Linked DNA regions of Homo sapiens. The protein of the gene in region 2 purifies or fractionates together with the protein of the main gene of each other region. This does not show direct contact. Each region holds a gene or a part of one and is shown on either strand. Other genes may lie near its edges. The genes, in order: ARHGEF7, CAMK4, CNOT1, ANKRD52 and PPT1.

What was found.
Region 1: the proteins of CAMK4 (region 2) and ARHGEF7 purify together in Homo sapiens (affinity purification with mass spectrometry; 2 studies listed by BioGRID and IntAct, with this or other methods). This does not show direct contact.
Region 3: the proteins of CAMK4 (region 2) and CNOT1 purify together in Homo sapiens (affinity purification with mass spectrometry; one large-scale study listed by BioGRID and IntAct). This does not show direct contact.
Region 4: the proteins of CAMK4 (region 2) and ANKRD52 purify together in Homo sapiens (affinity purification with mass spectrometry; one large-scale study listed by BioGRID and IntAct). This does not show direct contact.
Region 5: the proteins of CAMK4 (region 2) and PPT1 purify together in Homo sapiens (co-immunoprecipitation; one large-scale study listed by IntAct). This does not show direct contact.

Annotation. Positions count from the first base shown.
Region 1 is NC_000013.11:111,282,792-111,286,309, forward strand, and holds part of ARHGEF7 (rho guanine nucleotide exchange factor 7), read left to right. Parts: intron 1-347; coding exon 348-572; coding exon of another isoform or gene 573-608; intron 609-1,613; exon of another isoform or gene 1,614-2,035; intron 2,036-3,355; coding exon 3,356-3,449; intron 3,450-3,518. UniProt on the Homo sapiens protein: Acts as a RAC1 guanine nucleotide exchange factor (GEF) and can induce membrane ruffling. Functions in cell migration, attachment and cell spreading. Promotes targeting of RAC1 to focal adhesions. May function as a positive regulator of apoptosis.
Region 2 is NC_000005.10:111,482,872-111,486,389, reverse strand, and holds part of CAMK4 (calcium/calmodulin-dependent protein kinase type IV), read right to left. Parts: coding exon 3,453-3,518; intron 2,365-3,452; coding exon 1,924-2,364; 3' UTR 1-1,923. UniProt on the Homo sapiens protein: Calcium/calmodulin-dependent protein kinase that operates in the calcium-triggered CaMKK-CaMK4 signaling cascade and regulates, mainly by phosphorylation, the activity of several transcription activators, such as CREB1, MEF2D, JUN and RORA, which play pivotal roles in immune response, inflammation, and memory consolidation.
Region 3 is NC_000016.10:58,546,320-58,549,837, forward strand, and holds part of CNOT1 (CCR4-NOT transcription complex subunit 1), read right to left. Parts: coding exon 3,400-3,518; intron 2,315-3,399; exon of another isoform or gene 2,180-2,314; intron 1,364-2,179; coding exon 1,247-1,363; intron 978-1,246; coding exon 867-977; intron 431-866; coding exon 353-430; intron 180-352; coding exon 2-179; intron 1-1.
Region 4 is NC_000012.12:56,248,372-56,251,889, forward strand, and holds part of ANKRD52 (serine/threonine-protein phosphatase 6 regulatory ankyrin repeat subunit C), read right to left. Parts: intron 500-3,518; coding exon 388-499; intron 196-387; coding exon 124-195; intron 1-123. UniProt on the Homo sapiens protein: Putative regulatory subunit of protein phosphatase 6 (PP6) that may be involved in the recognition of phosphoprotein substrates.
Region 5 is NC_000001.11:40,083,741-40,087,258, reverse strand, and holds part of PPT1 (palmitoyl-protein thioesterase 1 isoform 1 precursor), read left to right. Parts: intron 1-3,518. UniProt on the Homo sapiens protein: Has thioesterase activity against fatty acid thioesters with 14 -18 carbons, including palmitoyl-CoA, S-palmitoyl-N-acetylcysteamine, and palmitoylated proteins. In contrast to PPT2, PPT1 can hydrolyze palmitoylated proteins and palmitoylcysteine.

The DNA.
Region 1 (3,518 bases), on a different chromosome or scaffold from region 2:
TCTCATCTTTTTACTAGATGAAGTACCTTTTTTCTATAAATGTTACTCCGTAGCTAATAAATGTGGCTAGTGGATGTCTTTTGAGTGCTGGGGCCCCAGCTAGAGCTGCCCCTCCTGTCTGGGGCAGACGCCGTGAGGAGCCCCACGCTCGGCCCAGGTGGCGCGAGCTAGTGTTTGGCCCCAAAAACTGACTGCTGAGAGCCAGAGATACGAATGAAATGATAAATCCTGAGGTTTATTTCACATGGAGTGTTTAAAGAGCAGAAGGAAGTGCGTGATAAGTGCCCTTTCGCGGTGAGCACGCGAGTCTCATGTTCTCTGCCCTTCCCGCTCTGTGCCCTTGGCAGCTCCCCTCCCACCCGGTCACTCCGTCCAGCAAGCACGCAGACAGCAAGCCCGCGCCGCTGACGCCCGCCTACCACACGCTGCCCCACCCCTCCCACCACGGCACCCCGCACACCACCATCAACTGGGGACCCCTGGAGCCTCCGAAAACACCCAAGCCCTGGAGCCTGAGCTGCCTGCGGCCCGCGCCTCCCCTCCGGCCCTCAGCTGCTCTCTGCTACAAGGAGGTGAGGTCCCTTGACCACTCAAACAGCCAGATGACGGTGAGCATGCCTCGGGCCCTGGGTGTGCCCACGTGCTGGGCCTTCTGTGTACAGCAAAATGCACCCTAACTCCTAGAGAACTGAGAAGGGGGGGTCTGCCTTGGTTCTCTGGTTATCTGCTCTGCTGCTGAGAGGCCCGTGGTAACCTGTGTGGGAAGGCGATGTGCAGGGTCCCCCTCCTTTCTGCCATGCACAGGGGGGCCTTTACTGCACTTGCCGGAGGAGTGTGCCGCCAGGGGCCAGGAGCTGGAAAGGCGCTGAGCCCAGGTGGCTTTCACTCCCTGTGTGTGAGGCCATCGCTCAGCATCTGCACGCTGTCTGCTGCGTCTAACGACCCCTCCTCTAGGTTGGGGATCCTGTCCAGGAGCCCTGCATTTTGTCATCCAGAAGCCATTTGAGATGAAGAGAACATTTACTAATACAAATGAAAAACAATCACTTAGGCGGTTTCCCCCTTTGATGCATAAGAAATCATGATGCGGTCTTTGCTTGTCTCTGTTCTCATCCGGCATTTTTATATTTGCTAGGCGCAAATAAAGTACGATTCCAATGAATAAATAGAAGTGTTAACACTTCCTTACACTTTTACCTAAACCAGCTTGGATGAGGAAAGGAAGTGTCTTTAGAAATCTGTTCTGAGAAGTACTTTCACCTGAGGAAGCTGATAATTGAGATGAGAGTTGTTTTCATAAGCAGTTGAGCGTGCATGGTGGTGAGGTATGAGGAGTGGCGGTGAGAGTGTGGGTATCGTGCGCGTCAGTGTGAGCAGCAGTGCCCGTTGGTGGGGTGTGAGTGAGCGTGAGGATGGTGACACGCTCTTGCCTGGCATTGTGCCTCTGTGTCTGGTCAAGGCCACATTTGCCAAGGGAACTGGAGCAGACTTTTTCTACATTCTTGCCGGCAGCCCTGGGGGTTTTAAGGCCCACAGGAAAGTACTGTATGAGAAATTAGGATCTGTGCTTTTCATTTTTTGTTCTGAGTCTTTGTTTTTATGATATCTTTCAGGTAATCATGTGTGCAAGTCAGAATTTCCATTTTCTATCATGGGAAGTTACTTGAAGAATGTTGCTGTTCCTTATTGTATACTTTAGTGTGCACAGTCTAAAGAAAAAGTGAGCTACTACAAGAACTGGTGGAGACTGAATTACTAGGGAAGAAAATTGGGATAAAACTGTTGGGCAAAGAAGTAGAAAGGGCAACGGAAGGGGTATTGAAGTGAAGATAAACAATTTTTTTTGATAAGTCTGGCTGCATTTGCTTTGCCAACTCCACACTGGGAGAGAAGGGCTCACACCGAGCAGCTGCCGTCCAGTGTTGCTGAGCACCGCCCAGCAGTAGCGTGGAGAGTGATCTTGCAGGGTGTGAGAAGAGGACATGGAGGCTCGTGGAGGCCGCTCTGCAGCCCGCTCTGCCTGGCTCTGGCTCAGGTGTGCTGTGTGCTCTGTGACCCTCTGCGCCTGCAGGTGCCCTCGGAGCACGTGAGGGGCGGGCGTTGGCTCTTCAAGGCTCTCCATCTCAATTTGCTTCGAATTAGGGAAGCCATGAGCACATGTGTATAAATGTGTCTTCTGGAACAGATTGCTGCTGCATTTCTAAGAGCTTTCCAATTTTTTATAGAAATACTTTTGTTTAACTTTTTGAAGGCTATTTTAGATTCAGAGTTTGTTACGTGGCTGTATTGGGTGATGCTGGGGTTTGGGCTTCTGGGGTACCTATTACCCAAATAGGAAACATTGTACCCAATGGGTAGCTTTTCAAAACTCACCCCCATCACCTTCCGCCTTTTGGAGTCCCCAGGGTCTGTCATTTCCATGGTCATGTCCATGTGTACCCATTGTTTAGCTCCCAAGAAAAGACTTTTAAAGATAATTTTAAAAACCAAGCTTTGTTTCCTCTGTTTCCAGCCTGGTTCATTCCATAGCACATCTCATCTTCTGAGTCTTGGTCTCGCGTTTAGCATTCGTGATGGTTTATGTCGTTGGGGTGATGCAGAAACCAGCCTTTTTTTGATATCGGTATTTAACACGTGCTTGACAGTTGACACCTTACCTGCTCTGTTGGGACTTGCTTTGCTCACTTTGTTTTTTGCCGTCGTCTTCTGTGCTTGTTTGAAAAGCTGTTTGAAGAGGTAAGGGGTGGGCCATTCCGTTGTGAACACTCTGAGCTGGTGTGCATGTGGCCCCTGCACAGCAGCCCTGGCCGAGCTTGGCTGTGCTCCTGGCACTCAGAGTCAGGTAGCTGAGCACTCGCTCCCTTTTCTTCTCCCTGAAACTTCAAATATTTTCTTAAAGCAATTATTTTTTACTTATCTGTCATTTAATGACAACCTTAGTTTCCTCCTCTCTTTCCAGTTAGCTGTGCCAGGGGATAGGTCTGTCCTAGGGAGCAGCTGCCCCCTCCTCTCCTCCTCCCTCAGGAGCGTGCAGGATGTCTGTGCACACCAGCGCCAGCCTGCCTCCTGGTGACACCTCTCATCACAGGACTAACAGGACCCAAATGACACGAGGGGTTTTATTAGAATTAAAAAAAAAAAATTAGCCAATGACTAATACTGAAAATGCCCTATTGATTTTTAAAAATTAACGTTCAGAAGCTGGTAAAGAAAAATCAAAGTAGGAAAAGGCGAGAAGCTCTTATCAGTGGCTATAATAATTTGGGGTTTTATACCTTTACAGCAGCCTTTCTGATATGCCAGTGAAAATGATTGGCTTTAGAGTATGTTAGCATTTTCTTTTGTCTTTCCCTAGGATCTTAGTAAGAGCCCTAAGACCATGAAAAAGCTGCTGCCCAAGCGCAAACCTGAACGGAAGCCTTCAGATGAGGAGTTCGCGTCCCGGAAAAGTGAGTACCTGCGGTCCGTGTGGTGGAGGACGTGGCCTCCTGGTCACGTAGGCCATGGCTTTCCTGGGA
Region 2 (3,518 bases):
GGACAACATGGGAATTCTGAGAGGGAATAATTAAATGAGGAAGGAAGGAAAGAGGGAATAAGAAAAGTGCTCTCTACTAGATAGTACAAATAAAACAAAACAAAAAATAATCTTCTGAGCCCAGATGATGTGCTTCTTCAGGGGCTCCATATCAGTGACCTGTCAGATTCTTAAACTATGAAAGATAAGAAGTCCTACCTTGTTTTCTTCCCATGAGAACAGTAGTAGAGAGAGATTTGTGATTGAAAAGAAGAATGTCTACTGAGGTCCAACAGCCTCTACAAACTGGAGCTTTAGTTTCGTTTTCTAATTTAATAGTTTTGAGGGAGAGCCAACATAATTTAAGATCTCTTTTTTAACAAGGATTTTTATGTGATAGTCATTTTTATTGTCTTTATTTGGTCTCTGAAAATAATTATTTTTTAAAATGAATTCTTTTTTAAAATTGAGAAAACCCACCAAAAATGTGACACATAATTAATCTGATAAAATATTCATTTCAACTCAAACTAGAAATAAATTGGAGATAGTGCAATTTCTATAAGGGGAAAGTGTTTCTATGAAAGTCAAAGAGAAATTAAACTTATTCTGGGAAAAATCATAATAAAATATCAGGTCTAATGTTCCAGCTTTTTAAGAGTCTGATTTGAAATCAGTATTTTTCTTTATTTTTGTTTTTGTTTGTTTTTTAAGGTAAATAAATTGCATTGTGCTAAATTTATTGGCAGCCACATTCTCAACACTACATTGTAAAATGTGGGTACTTTCATTCCAAATACGAGAAAAAGACATACTAGCTTTTCATAAATAACTTTAGTTTATAAGTGATATGTGTAGATAACCATCAATTGGATAAAAAAAGAGCTTTGATAAACAATAATGTTTTCTTACTCTATTAAAGTCAATAATGAATAATCTTAAAATGGAATATTATTCCTACTCTATGAAGACATTTTGGCACTAACCTGTGAAATAGAATTTTCTAAATATTTGCAACTTGGTAATTATAGAGTTTATCCATTAAAATGTTCTTATCTGTAAAGTTGTATAAATTCATGAGTAAATACAATTTTATCTGGAAAATGAAAAGGAATCAATCTTATCTTCATCAGTTTAAGTACAGTCTTACCTTCTTTTCTTCCCTGTTTATTACACCCTAAGCTTTGTCTATCAGAAAGTCATCTTATTGGAGAGCAGGTGAAGGAAAGAATGGAACTCAGCGTGAGTTTGTAAATTACTTCCTCCAGGGTTGTAAAATGGCAGAATCTTAGAACATTTTGGTTATTATTAATATAGTGTATATAAATAAGAATAAAATAAAGCATTCTCCACACAGGCTTTAGGGACATATGGCTTCATGGCCTTTAAGGATACTTCAATTTCTTACCATTGCAAGTGGATTTTTTTTTGCACATATGTACAACTATCATCTATAAGCATCTCCTTGTAAACAGTTTGAACACATCAATGATAAAAAGTAAAATGTTGTAAAAGTTATGGGAACATGTCTTTTAGCACTACCTAGTATTAGCTAAGCAGTAGTTCAAAGGAATTACTGCCTTGTGAAGAAATCCAAAGGATGTAGGATGGCTAGATTTTCAAAGCAAAAACAATTTGCTACTATTCACTTCAAATATGTGCCACTGGTTGCTGAAAATGTATGCTTTTAAGTGTTACGTTGTGTTAACTTGCAAGATTTAACTCATCGGTATTAGGTATCCATTACATGCCATAGAAGACACTATTATTTTCATAAAGCAGTCACATGCATTGAAGTTAGAATTACCAACTGGTATATATGTATGTTTTTTGCACCTCAAAAACAGAATCACTATAGTACATATCATGCTTCCACACCTTTCTTGCTGAAGGACAAAGTACATAAAATGCCGGTGTTTGGCTTCCAGATCTGAAGGAAGCTGTTTAGTACTCTGGCAGGATCACATCTTGCTGTGGAACTTCAAAACCCACAGCAGAGCTTCCTTGCCCTTCTCTGGGAGCTGCTGCCTCCTCCACAGTCTTCAGCTTCTCCTCTGCTAGGCCCTCCTCTAGTTCCAGGTCAGCCACCTTTATCCCATCCTCCACTGCCTTGGGCACCATTTTGGGGGCCTCTTCAGCATTTATATCTGCACCTTTAACTTTCTCTAAGGCTTGCACCTTCATCAGCTCAGCCTGTGCCCCCTTAACTGCGGCTTGGGCCCCATCGCCTTGAATTTTCTCTCCTTCTGGAATAGCTTTCATGTCCTCGTTGCCATCTTGGATTGGAGAAGGGTCTCGGCTAGCCTTGTGGCTCTCCTGGATGCTGCCATGGCTGCTGCTGGCACTTCCCAGGCGCGAAGAGGCCACCACAGCCTTCACCGCTGCCTGATTGGAAACAGAAGAGTGTCAAGTGTTACCTCTGCTTTAACACCCCACATCAGAGCTCAACCCCAGCTTTGCTTTTAGGGATTCCGTTTTATAGGTTAGCGTTAAAGTTTTCAAAGTACCTTATTCCTAGATTGTTTGCCAAAAGAAAATTTGGAGAATGAACAGTAAAACCTCTTTCATCTCAAATTAAATACAAATTAGTGTATTTAATCATCTGGACAACTGAAAGCCTGAATACATGTGTTTACCTGTGGCTAACCAATTTTTGAAAATTTTAATCTGTGTTTCCCGGTGTATTTGTTTTACGGAACACTAGTTCTGTGGACGTTAGTAGTTTTTACCACATGGATGTCATCATGGGGATATAAGAGTTCCGTGATCAAACTAGCTGGAGAAATCCTAGGTGAAGTCAATACTATTTAATTTGGGGTATTTATAATTAATTTGACCATGGAGCCTTTCAGATTTATTTAGTCTGTATCAGACCGTAAGCAATGGCTGCATAGGACCCTAATTCTGACCCCCAGCTGCTCTCTGAGATCCTCTACTTACATAGCTAGTCCTAAACACAGTTATGTAATAGAAAAGCTCCTAATCTCTATTCGATAGGTACTATATAAAATGATATATTTAGTTAAGTAATTTATTATATCACTTAAATTTTTAAATTTTTGTCAAGTAATTATTTATCTATATTAGGAAATATAGTTTCAAAAATTGTTTACCAAGTTTTACATATTCTGAAAGAAAACAACTTTCTGAATAAATATCAGTTTTCCCTGAACAATGCTGTTTAAGCAGTATACTTTAATTAGATGAGAAGCAGCAATAATATATTTGATATGTAAATATCAACTTATATAACAAATTTCCCTTTATTAATCATATATTCCTTATGAGAGTATAAGAAAACTTAAGTAGCTTTGTGTCAGCCTTATTGGAGTTTCAAAGCAGGATTTTCCCTGGTGCCTTAAGAAATAGATAATAGTATTAGATGAAGAACGGTAGAACTATTATTGATAGATCAAGATGAGATAAATTTTTTGAAAACAAAACAAAACAAAACAAAATATATGCTATCTTACCTTAAGCTTACGCCGGGCATTGAATTCTTGGAGCTTCTTTTGAGCGGTATCCATGTGTACAAAATT
Region 3 (3,518 bases), on a different chromosome or scaffold from region 2:
CTTGTGGTTGTGATGGGAGGGAGTTCTTCTGGCTGCTTGACATCTTTCTTTGGAGCAGAGAGTTGCTCATCTAAATTCTTCAGGCGATCTTTATCCTTTAGGAGGTTTCCAGGTTTTAGCTCATTGATGTCTAATGCAAGGTTCTTGCAGAGAACCTCGATTTCAAACTTCAAGTTTAACTGCACAGTTCCAGAGTTGGATTAGAATTTTTAAAAGAAAACTTTAGTTTTACTCATAATATACTCTACTTTCAGTTATTATAGTACTTCCCCCGAAATACCCTGCCTTCACTGTAAGTTTTAATAATGTGAAGGCAAAGAATGTTCCAGAGGACAAGGAAGCAGTAAATTACCTTTAAGTCATGCTCCTGATGTAGCTCAGCTAATACATTCATAATTGCCATTGTCCAAGGGTTTGGTGGCCTAAAAACCTAAAGAAAAGCTATTATGTTAAGCTGGCCCAAAATGTGCCCTTTAATTTGGATTATTTAAAACAATTCAATACAACATAAGGGGGTAGGGGGGAGTCAAACAAATAAAAAACAAAAAACAAGGATTAAAAAATAACCAAAAACAGTTAAACATAGTTAAACACTTATACCTCTGTAGCCATAACAAAACCCCTAGCCTTCTCACCTATATCACATTTCAAAAACAAAACAAAACAAAAAACCAAAAACCAAAGCCAACCATTATAATCTTTCTTATTTCACCCAGCCTCTCAAATTGGAAATCCAAGTGCCATAGAGGAAAACAGACTTAACTAGCTTTACCTCACAAGAACTAAGAATATAATCTCTTGACCTCATGCTAAAACAAAGCAATGCTTAGAAATTAGTCATAAATAAAATATTAAAATCTACTCACCACACTACGAATGCTAGATTCTAAGACTTTGGCAACAAAGGGCACTACATAGAGCAATTCTTGTTGTCCTTTAACATAAGCCTCTAGCAGCAATGATTTCACATCCAAGTCCTAGAATAAGAAAAATACTTTCAAAAGCGGGGAATATACCCCCCAAAATGGTATAACAAAACCAAAGAAAAGTATTTTGCCAAGCTTATCCCCAAAACAGGAATCAACATAATGTCTAGTCCTTGCCTTACAAAAAGGGGTTAACAACTCAAAACGTGGGCCAAAATCTTACAAAACCCCAATAATCATTAAATAGCTCCAAACAGCCAATACTTGTAATCATAATGTGCTGAAGATTCTCAATTTTTACACATTTAGATGAAACTCACAGTGTGTAAGATGGGTTTGTTTTTAGCTAATGTGATCATTCCTAGCCAATGTCCCAAGTTCTTCAGCAAAGAACGATCTGAGAAATTGGCTGCAGCTTTATCAGAGGTCAGGAGCACCTGAAATAGTGTAAGATTAAGAAAGATATGAGAATAAGCTTATGAAAGAAAACTCAACTAAGTATTTGAGAATTCCATTATCCTATCCTAAAGACAAGTCATCATTTCTAAGAACAGGCCCCAAAGTAGAATTACTCTGTATATCATTCTCAATATCATTTTGCTGTGTTTATGATTCAACAGTGCTATTTTTACCTTGAAGAAGTCTTTACATTTTATTTTTTCAAAATAGGTACAAACACATTGCACAAAATTCAAAAAGAACACAAAGTTATGTGCCAGCTATCCTCCCCTAGAAAAGTATTTTCAACTCTGAAAACCTTAGCTAGGTTTAAAGCAGAGACCTAACTACAAAGCTATTTTGAAGTGCTAAATTAATTTAAATGAGGATGATAGCCATGCTTAAGTCCTTAAAGGCAGCAAGCATACAAAGGAATATAATCAAATTAGCCTCCTATTGCAATCTTCAGTATACCCAGGTCATTAACAAATCTCTGCAGCCAACCAAGATAACTTTCTGAGATATAGTATAATACTGTTTATATACTTCTTTTCAAATTTCTAAAAAACCCAAACCATTTAACTGATTCTCCGGTTACTGTTTTTCTAAGGGGGGGCAGAACTAACATAGGAGAGTGTTTTGGCTGCAGGTATGCACACATGTATATACCCATCTACTCTGTGGTACCTCTTGACTTAGGGCTATATTTAAACTTCTGTTTAAAAAACATGGTCTTGAAACTTTGCTACAGAGTATGTGGAAACTTTTATGTATCCCAACCACCCTTGCTATCAGATAATAAAAACGAAATAGAGCCATGTTCCTTAACTCTATACAGCAACAGCAGAATGGCACAAGTCAGCTGTGCAACAGAGAGCCAGGAATTCTTTTGCACTACAGCGTAACCAAGAATGGGGAATATTCCCATCCACAGGTTTAAATATAGTGCTGGTTCCTAAGCCAATGACCCAAGTTATTGAGCAAAGAATGACCACAGCTGTATGCTGGTTCTAGAAGTTTTTCCTCCTAAGAAATAAATGATGGTTTAGAAATTAAAATACTTGAATTTTGTTGAATAAGCCTCAGCTCAGTAGAATTTGACCTTAAACTGCACAGACTCCTAGACAACAGCTATTCCACAAACAGATTTAGAGTCTAAAGATATCTTGCACTTGAATACTACAAGATACAAACGAAAACATTCAGGACAGCATTGTTTATAATAGTTTAAGTGATTAACAACACAAATGCCCAGCAGCAATACAAATACATACAATGGTTTTCTACAAGACTATATTTTTCTGTTTTTTAAAAAAGAGGACTGGCCGGGCACAGTGGCTCAGGCCTGTAATCCCAGAACTCTGGGAGGCCGAGGAGGGTGGATCACCTAAGGTCAGGAGTTCGGGACCAGCCTGGCCAATATGATTAAACCCCGTCTCTACTAAAAATATAAAAATTAGCTGGGCATGGCGGTACAACTATAATCCCAGCTACTCGGGAGGCTGAAGTAAGAGAACTGCTTGAACCTGGGAGGTGGAGGCTGCAGTGAGCCGAGATCGTGCCACTGCACTCCAGCCTAAGCAACAGAGTGAGACCACATCTCAAAAAAATTGAAAAAAAAAAAAAAAGGGGGCTACAGCAAAGAGCATTATCATTATCATGAATAATATCCAGGGGAGAAAAAAAAGTAAGTGAAAAAAAAAGAAAAGGATGTACAGAGGGCGACACCATACAGAATATGCTAACCAATACTATGCTGCTTATGTATAACAGTGGTAAAGTTCTAAAATCATGCATGGCATGACAAAAACAATTCATAATAGTGGTTACTTTCAAAGAAAAGGCACAGGGTATGCCTATAAATTTAAGTTCTGCATAAAATTTAGTTCCATATAAGAAACAAAATCTACAGCAATTTCCAGAGGTACCTAATATTGACAATATATATGGAAAAATAGCAAAAATCCTACCTATATAATCAAATATTTCCAAATTCAAAGCAATAATTAAAGGAAATATAAGAACCAACTCTTACTTTAATGTTTCTGTAGGTCTCATTCAGAACCATCTTGTTAAATTCAGGATTCTTCAGCGTGTCAAGGAAGTTTGAATACAGGCTATGAAAGTTTGGCTCAATACTGACTCTCTTCATAA
Region 4 (3,518 bases), on a different chromosome or scaffold from region 2:
GTGCTTATCCCCTCTCCCACAAAAAGGCAGAAGGAAGGATAACTTCACAAGTGCTGGCACCTTTGTTAGGGCCTGGGAACAGGTAGGACAAGGAAGGCAACAGAAAAAAGACGTGGGACTCACAGCTAAGTGCAAAGGGCTGACTGGAATGGTGCTCTCCACATCCTCCAGGCAGTTAAAGGACATTTCTAAGAGCTGCAAAGGACAGGAAAGTAGGTGCTGAGACTCTGGAACTCCCAAGATAGTACCCCAGTCCCCGACTCGCAGTAATCCCCACTAAGCCTCTGGATCCAAAGACCACATTTGATTGAACCCTTAGTTTTGGAATCCACAAACCCTGTGCCCTGCCCCTGCCTCCCCTCCTGCAGGCCGGGCCCCAACACATACCAGTTCGAGGTTCTGTCTGTTGCCATAGGCGGCTGCATAGTGCACAGCTGTGTAGCCCTGCCTGTCCCGCAGGGAGGGGTCTGCACCGTTATCCAGTAAGAACTCCAGACAGCTGGGGAGCCGGGGGTAGACTGTGAGGCAGGGACAGGCCCAGCCCAGGAGGGCACAGTTCTGGGAGGGCCAGAGGAGAGGACCAAGGCCCTCCAGGCCTACCTGGCCGCCACCCGTCCTCAGCTCTAGGTAGGTTCTCTAAATCCTACCCATTCTTCAATGGCAGCTCCAGACCCACTTTACCTTCTCAAGGTCTGCCCTGAACCCCTCTGGCTTCAATGCCCTCCTTTATCCTCTGAATGCTCTCCTAGAGAACCTAGAGCATGATGTTCAGTTATCAGCCTTCTGCTGACCAACATGCTTTCCCCACCTCCAGGCACGCCAACCCCTGCCCTAGGATGCTTTCTCCTCCCAGCCCACCCGAATAAGTCCTGTTCATCTCAAACTCAGTCCCAGCTTCTCTCCTCTGTGAGGCCTTTCCCAGCCTTCCCTGGGGAAGATGCCTCTTCCTCTGTGCTCCCTTGGCAGTCTTCTCATACCTTAGTAGTAGTTGTAGTAGTAGTAATAATAATAAAGTAGCACTTACTGTCAAGCACAGTTCTAAGTACTTCATGTATATTAAATAATTTAATCCTCATAAAGATCCCATGAAGTAGATACTATTTTTATCCTTACTGTGGGTGATGAAATTGAGGCATAGAGAAGTAACTTGCTGAAGGTAATAGCTGAGCCTCTTGGATTTTAGTGTCCTTTTTAAAAAAATAAATCTTAAAAAAAAATTATTTAATTTACTTATTTTAAATGGAGACAGGGGCCTGGCTCGGTTGCTCACATCTTTAATTCCAGCACTTTAGGAGGCTGAGGTGGGCAGATCACCCGCGGTCAGGAGTTCGTGGCCAGCCTCGCCAACATGGCGAAACCCTGTTTCTACTAAAAATACAAAAATTAGGCTGGGCGTGGTGGCTCACGCCTGCAATCCTAGCACTTTGGGAGGCCAAGGCAGGTGGATCGCCTGAGCTCGGGAGTTCAAGACCAGCCTGGGCAACATGGTGAAACCCCGTCTGTACTAAAATACAAAAAATTAGCCAGGCGTGGCAGCGTGCTCCTGTAGTCCCAGCTACTCAGGAGGCTGAGGCAGAATTGCTTGAACCCAGGAGGTGGAGGTTGCAGTGAGCCAAGTTCATGCCACTGCACTCCAGCCTGGGCAACAGAGTGAGACTCGGTCTTCAAAAAAACAATTAGCTGGGCGTGGTGATAGGCACCTGTAATCCCAGCTACTCAGGAGGAAGAGGCAGGAGAATCGCTTGAACCCCGGAGGTAGAGGTTGCAGTGAGCTGAGATCGCGCAACTGCACTAGAGCCTGGGTGACAGAGCAAGACTCCATCTCAAATAAATAAATAAATTAATTAATTTATTTATTTATTTAATTAAATAAAATAGAGATGAGTTCTCATTATGTGTTAGCCAGGCTGGTCTCATACTCCTGGGCTCAAGCAATCCTCCCACCTCAGTGCTGGAATTACAGGCATGAGTCACTGTGCCTACCTGATTTTTGTGGGTTTTTTTTTTTTTTAGAGACGGGGTCTCACTAGGCTGCCCAGGCTGGGGTGCAGTGGCTATTCATAGGCATGATCATAGTGCACTACAGCCTCAAACTCCTGGGTTTGCATGATCCTCTTGCCTTACCTGCACCTGCCTCCTGAATAACTGGGAATATATGCATGTGCCACCGTGCCCAGCAAAAAATAAACTTTTTGTTTTAGAATATTATTAGATTTATAGAAAAATTGTGGGCTAGGTGTGGTGGCTCATATCTGTAATCCCAGCACTTTGGGAGTCTGAGGCAGGAGGATTGCTTGAGCCCAGGAGTTCGAGACCAGTGTGGGCAACACAGAGAGATCCCTGACCTACAAAATAAATTAATTAAAAAAAAAAAAAAAGAAAGAAAAAGAAAAATTGTGAAGATAGTACAGGGAGTTCTCACATAACCTATACCTAGTTTCCCGTCATTAACATCTTACATTAGTATGCATAAGTGTCCTTTTATTTATCTTTCCCAATAGATTATTAGCTTTCGAAAGACAGAAATTTGGGACAATTCATCCTTTTTAAATTTTTATTTAATTTTATTTATTTATTTGTTTTTTTGGAGACAGAGTCTCACTCTGTCGCCCAGGTTGGAGTGGATTAGTGTGATCTTGACTCACTGCAACCTCCACCTCCCTGGTTCAAGTGATTCTCCTGCCTTAGCCACCCGAGTAGCTGGGATTACAGGTGCCTGCCAACATGACCAGCTAATTTTTATATTTTTAGTAGAGACGGGGTTTCACCACGTTGGCCAGGCTGGTCTCGAACTCCTGACCTCAGATGATCTGCCTGCCTCGGCCTCCCAAAGTGCTGGGATTATAGGCGTGAACCACCACACCCGGCCTATTTTTAATTTTAATTTTTTTGAGACAGAGTCTTGTTCGGTTGCCCAGGCTGGAGTGCAGTGGCGTGATCTCGGCTCACTACAACCTCCACCTCCCTGGTTCAAGCAATTCTCCTGCCTCGGCCTCCTGAGTAGCTGGGATTATAGGCGTGTGCCACCACACCTGGTTAATTTTTTGTATTTTTAGTAGAGACGGGGTTTCACCATGTTGGTCAAGCTGGTCTTGAACTCCTAACCTCAGGTGATCTGCCTACCTCAGCCTCCCTAAGTGCTAGGATTACAAGCTTGAGCCACTACGCCCAGCCTCATCTTTTATCCTTAGTATCTAGCACAGTACTTGGAACCTAGTAAGTAAATATTTAATTAATGCTTGTGGAATAAACAAATTATTTTGTACATTTAGCTTTTCTAATCCTCTCAAGAAGACCAGCCGGGCGCGGTGAGCTGAGATCACACCACTGCATTCCAGCCTGGGCAACAGAGTGAGACTCTGTCTCCAAAAAAAAAAAAAAAAAAAAAATCCATTCCTTTAGGGAAGGAACTATGTCTCATACTTTTGGGTTTTTTTTTCCCCCTGAAGCTCCTGAGCTTCAATCTCATACTTTTGTCTTTGCCCACTATGGACTACACCCAGAGGGCTCAAGACACA
Region 5 (3,518 bases), on a different chromosome or scaffold from region 2:
AAAATAAAAATAAAAAATACTGATTAAAAGCTATAGATTGATGTGTTTATCTTCACTTCCTCCTTAAACTTTAATTAAGTGGTAGCAGAAGAATAAAAAGTGATAAACCCACAAGGGCAGAGAGAACAGGGAGAGAGGAGGTAAGAGATCATAAAAAATGGCAACATGTTTTTGAAAGCAAGCAAGCAGATGAATGAGTGTGAGAACTGTTTTAGCAGAGCAGATGGTGAAGGCTTAAAGTAATAAAGAGAAATCATTTTGTCTTTGTGATACTGTCCCAGGTTGCCCCTGGTATTAGGGAGGATTAATTCTGGTTGCAAGAAGAAACCCATATCAAGCCAAAGTAAATTTTAAAAGAAAGTAATACTCTGTTGGTGCCTAAAGCCTCATAGGGCCTAGAATCAAGAATTGGGAGCCATGAGGAGCCAGGGTATTCTCTCTCCAGTGCCATTGTTGCTTCTCTCTCTGTGTCGCTGCTTCTTTCTCTCCATGCAGACCAGCTTCCCCTGCCACCCACATGATGGAAGGTGGCCTCGCACGGCTTCCAAATGTTTAATTTTCTGTTAGGAGATTGTCTCAGTCTGAGGCTAGACTCTCTTTGTCCCGATTCAGATTCTTCAGGAAGGGACCATGCCCCAGCTCAGGTCAGGTCTCCCCCTCTGCTCTCATTAGCTGTGGCCAGAGAAGTGGGACCGTGCTTACTAACCATACCCCACCTCCCTGTAAACCAGTAGGCCGGGCAGGAAGAGTGCAAGAGAGGCAGAGACCCCAAAAGATGTCTTCCACATTCTTCAGATAACTTAACCTTAGCAAAGCAAACGTGATATCCTAATACGCACAGTAACTGGTGGGGAAGCCCCCGGCTTGGCATGGTGAGGGCAACGAGGAATGGTATAATAGTTCTCTCTCTCCTTCCTGGATGTAAAACTACCCTCTAGTTCCCTTTTGCCTTTGCAGATGCTGTCAGCCCTTCCTAGCCTTCTCCTTCCTCCGGTTTGCTCCCTGCCATCCCCTGCCCCACGCTCTACCCTCCTACCTCTACACTCCCTGCCACAATGAATGCTTCAGTGTTGCCCTGGCCTTGGCCTCCGTCTTCCCCCGTACCAGCTCAGAGGAAGCTAGAGCTTTACATATCCTGTTTAATTTTCATAGCAACTTGCCTTCCCCAGGTCTGCTCTGGGCCCCGCTCCCAGTTTGCACCCCACCCTCAGTGGATCTCAGAGTGCTTTTCCTCAATTGTCCAGTTTTCCCATGTCTTTGCCCTCAGCCGATGAACTTGCAACTTGGTTTTCTGGAAATATTAAGGCATCTACTCAGGCTCTCTCAGAGACTTTCAGCCATTCAAAAAAGTTAGAGAGTAATGTAACGAACTACAGGCATACCTCAGAGAAACTGAGGATTTGGTTCTAGACCACCACAATAAAGCAAATATTGTTAATACAGCAAGTCACACAAAGTTGTTGGTTTCCCAGCGCATATAAAAGCTATGTTTACACTATACTGAAGTCTATTAAGTGTGCAGTAGCATCATGCCTAAAAAAAGTACATGCCTTAATTAGAAAATACTTTATTGCTAAAAAATGCTAATCATTTGAGTCTTCAGCAAGTCATCTTTTTGCTGGTGGAGGGTCTTGCCTCGGTGTTGATGGCTGCTGACTGATCAGGGTGGTGGTTGCTGAAGGTTGGGATGTAGGGTCCAGCCCCACAGGGTCGGTGGGTTTTTCTCCCTGTGTGCGGAGATGAGAGATTGTAGAAATAAAGACACAAGACAAAGAGATAAAAGACAGCTGGGCCCGGGGGACCACTACCACCAAGACGTGGAGACTGGTAGCGGCCCCGAATGCCAGGCTGCGCTGATATTTATTGGATACAAGACAAGGGGGGCAGGGTAAGGAGTGTGAGCCATCTCCCATGATAGGTAAAGTCACATGGGTCACGTGTCCACTGGACAGGGGGCCCTTCCCTGTTTGGCAGCCGAGGTGGGGAGAGAGAGAGAGAAAGACAGCTTAGGCCATTATTTCTGCATATCAGAGACTTTTAGTACTTTCACTAATTTTGCTACTGCTATCTAAAAGGCAGAGCCAGGTGTACAGGATGGAACATGAAAGCAGGCTAGGAACATGACCACTGAAGCACAGCATCACAGGGAGATGGTTGGGCCTCCGGATAACTGCAGGCGGGCCTGACTGATGTCACGCCCTCCACAAGAGGTGGAGGAGTAGAGGCTTCTCTAAACTCCCCCGGGGAAAGGGAGACTCCCTTTCCCAGTCTGCTAAGTAGTGGGTGTTTTTCCTTGGCACTGACGCTACCACTAGACCACGGTCCGCTTGGCAACGGACATCTTCCCAGACGCTGGCATTACCGCTAGACCAAGGAGCCCTCTAGTGGCCCTGTCCGGGCATGACAGAGGGCTCACACTATTGTCTTCTGGTCACTTCTGAGCATGTCCCTTCAGCTCCTATCTCTGTATGGCCTGGCTTTTCCTAGGTTATGATTGTAGGGCAAGGATTATTATAATATTGGAATAAAGAATAATTGCTACAAACTAATGATGAATGGTATTCATATATAATCATGTTTATGATCTAGGTCTAGGATAACTCTTGTTGTTTTATATATTTTATTATACCGGAACAGCTCATGCCCTCGGTCTCTTGCCTCGGCACCTGGGTGGCCTGCTGCCCACATTGGGGTGGCTGTGCTAATTTCTTAAAGTGAGACAATGATGAACTTTGTATCAGTTGACTCTTCCTTTCATGAAAGATTTCTTTGTAGCATGCGATGCTATTTGGTAGCATTTTGGCCACAATAGAACATCTTTCAGAACTGGAGTCAATCCTCAAACCCTGCCGCTGCTTTTATGTAAGCTTATGTAATATTTATTCTAAATCCTTTGTTGTCGTTTCATCAGTGTTCACAGCATCTTCACCAGGAGTAGATTCCATCTCAAGAAGCCACTGTTTTGCTCATCCGTAAGAAGCAATTCCTTATCTGTTTTTTGAGATTGCAACAATTCAGTCACATCGTCAGGTTCCACTTCTAATTCTAGTTCTCCTGCTATTTCCACATCTGCAGTTACTTCCTTCATTGAAGTCTTGAATCCCTCAGCCATTCATGAGGGTTGGAATCAACTTCTTTTAAATTCCTGATAATACTGATATTTTGACCTCTTCCCGTGAATCATGAATTTTTGTTTGTTTGTTTTTGAGACAGAGTCTCACTCTGTCACCCAAGTTGGAGTGCAGTGGTGCCATTACAGCTTACTGCAACATAGCCTCAACCTCCCAGGCTCAAGCAATCCTCCCACCTCAGCGTCCTGAGCAGCTGGGACTACAGGTGTGAGCCACTACACCCCACTAATTTTTTAATTTTTTTGTAGAGATAGGATCTCATTTATGTTGCCCAGGCTAGTCTCACACTCCTGGGCTCCACTGATTTTCCCTCCTCACCCTCCCAAAGTGCATGGTACCCAGCCCGTTAATGTTCTTAATGGCATCTAGAATGATAAATCCTTTCCA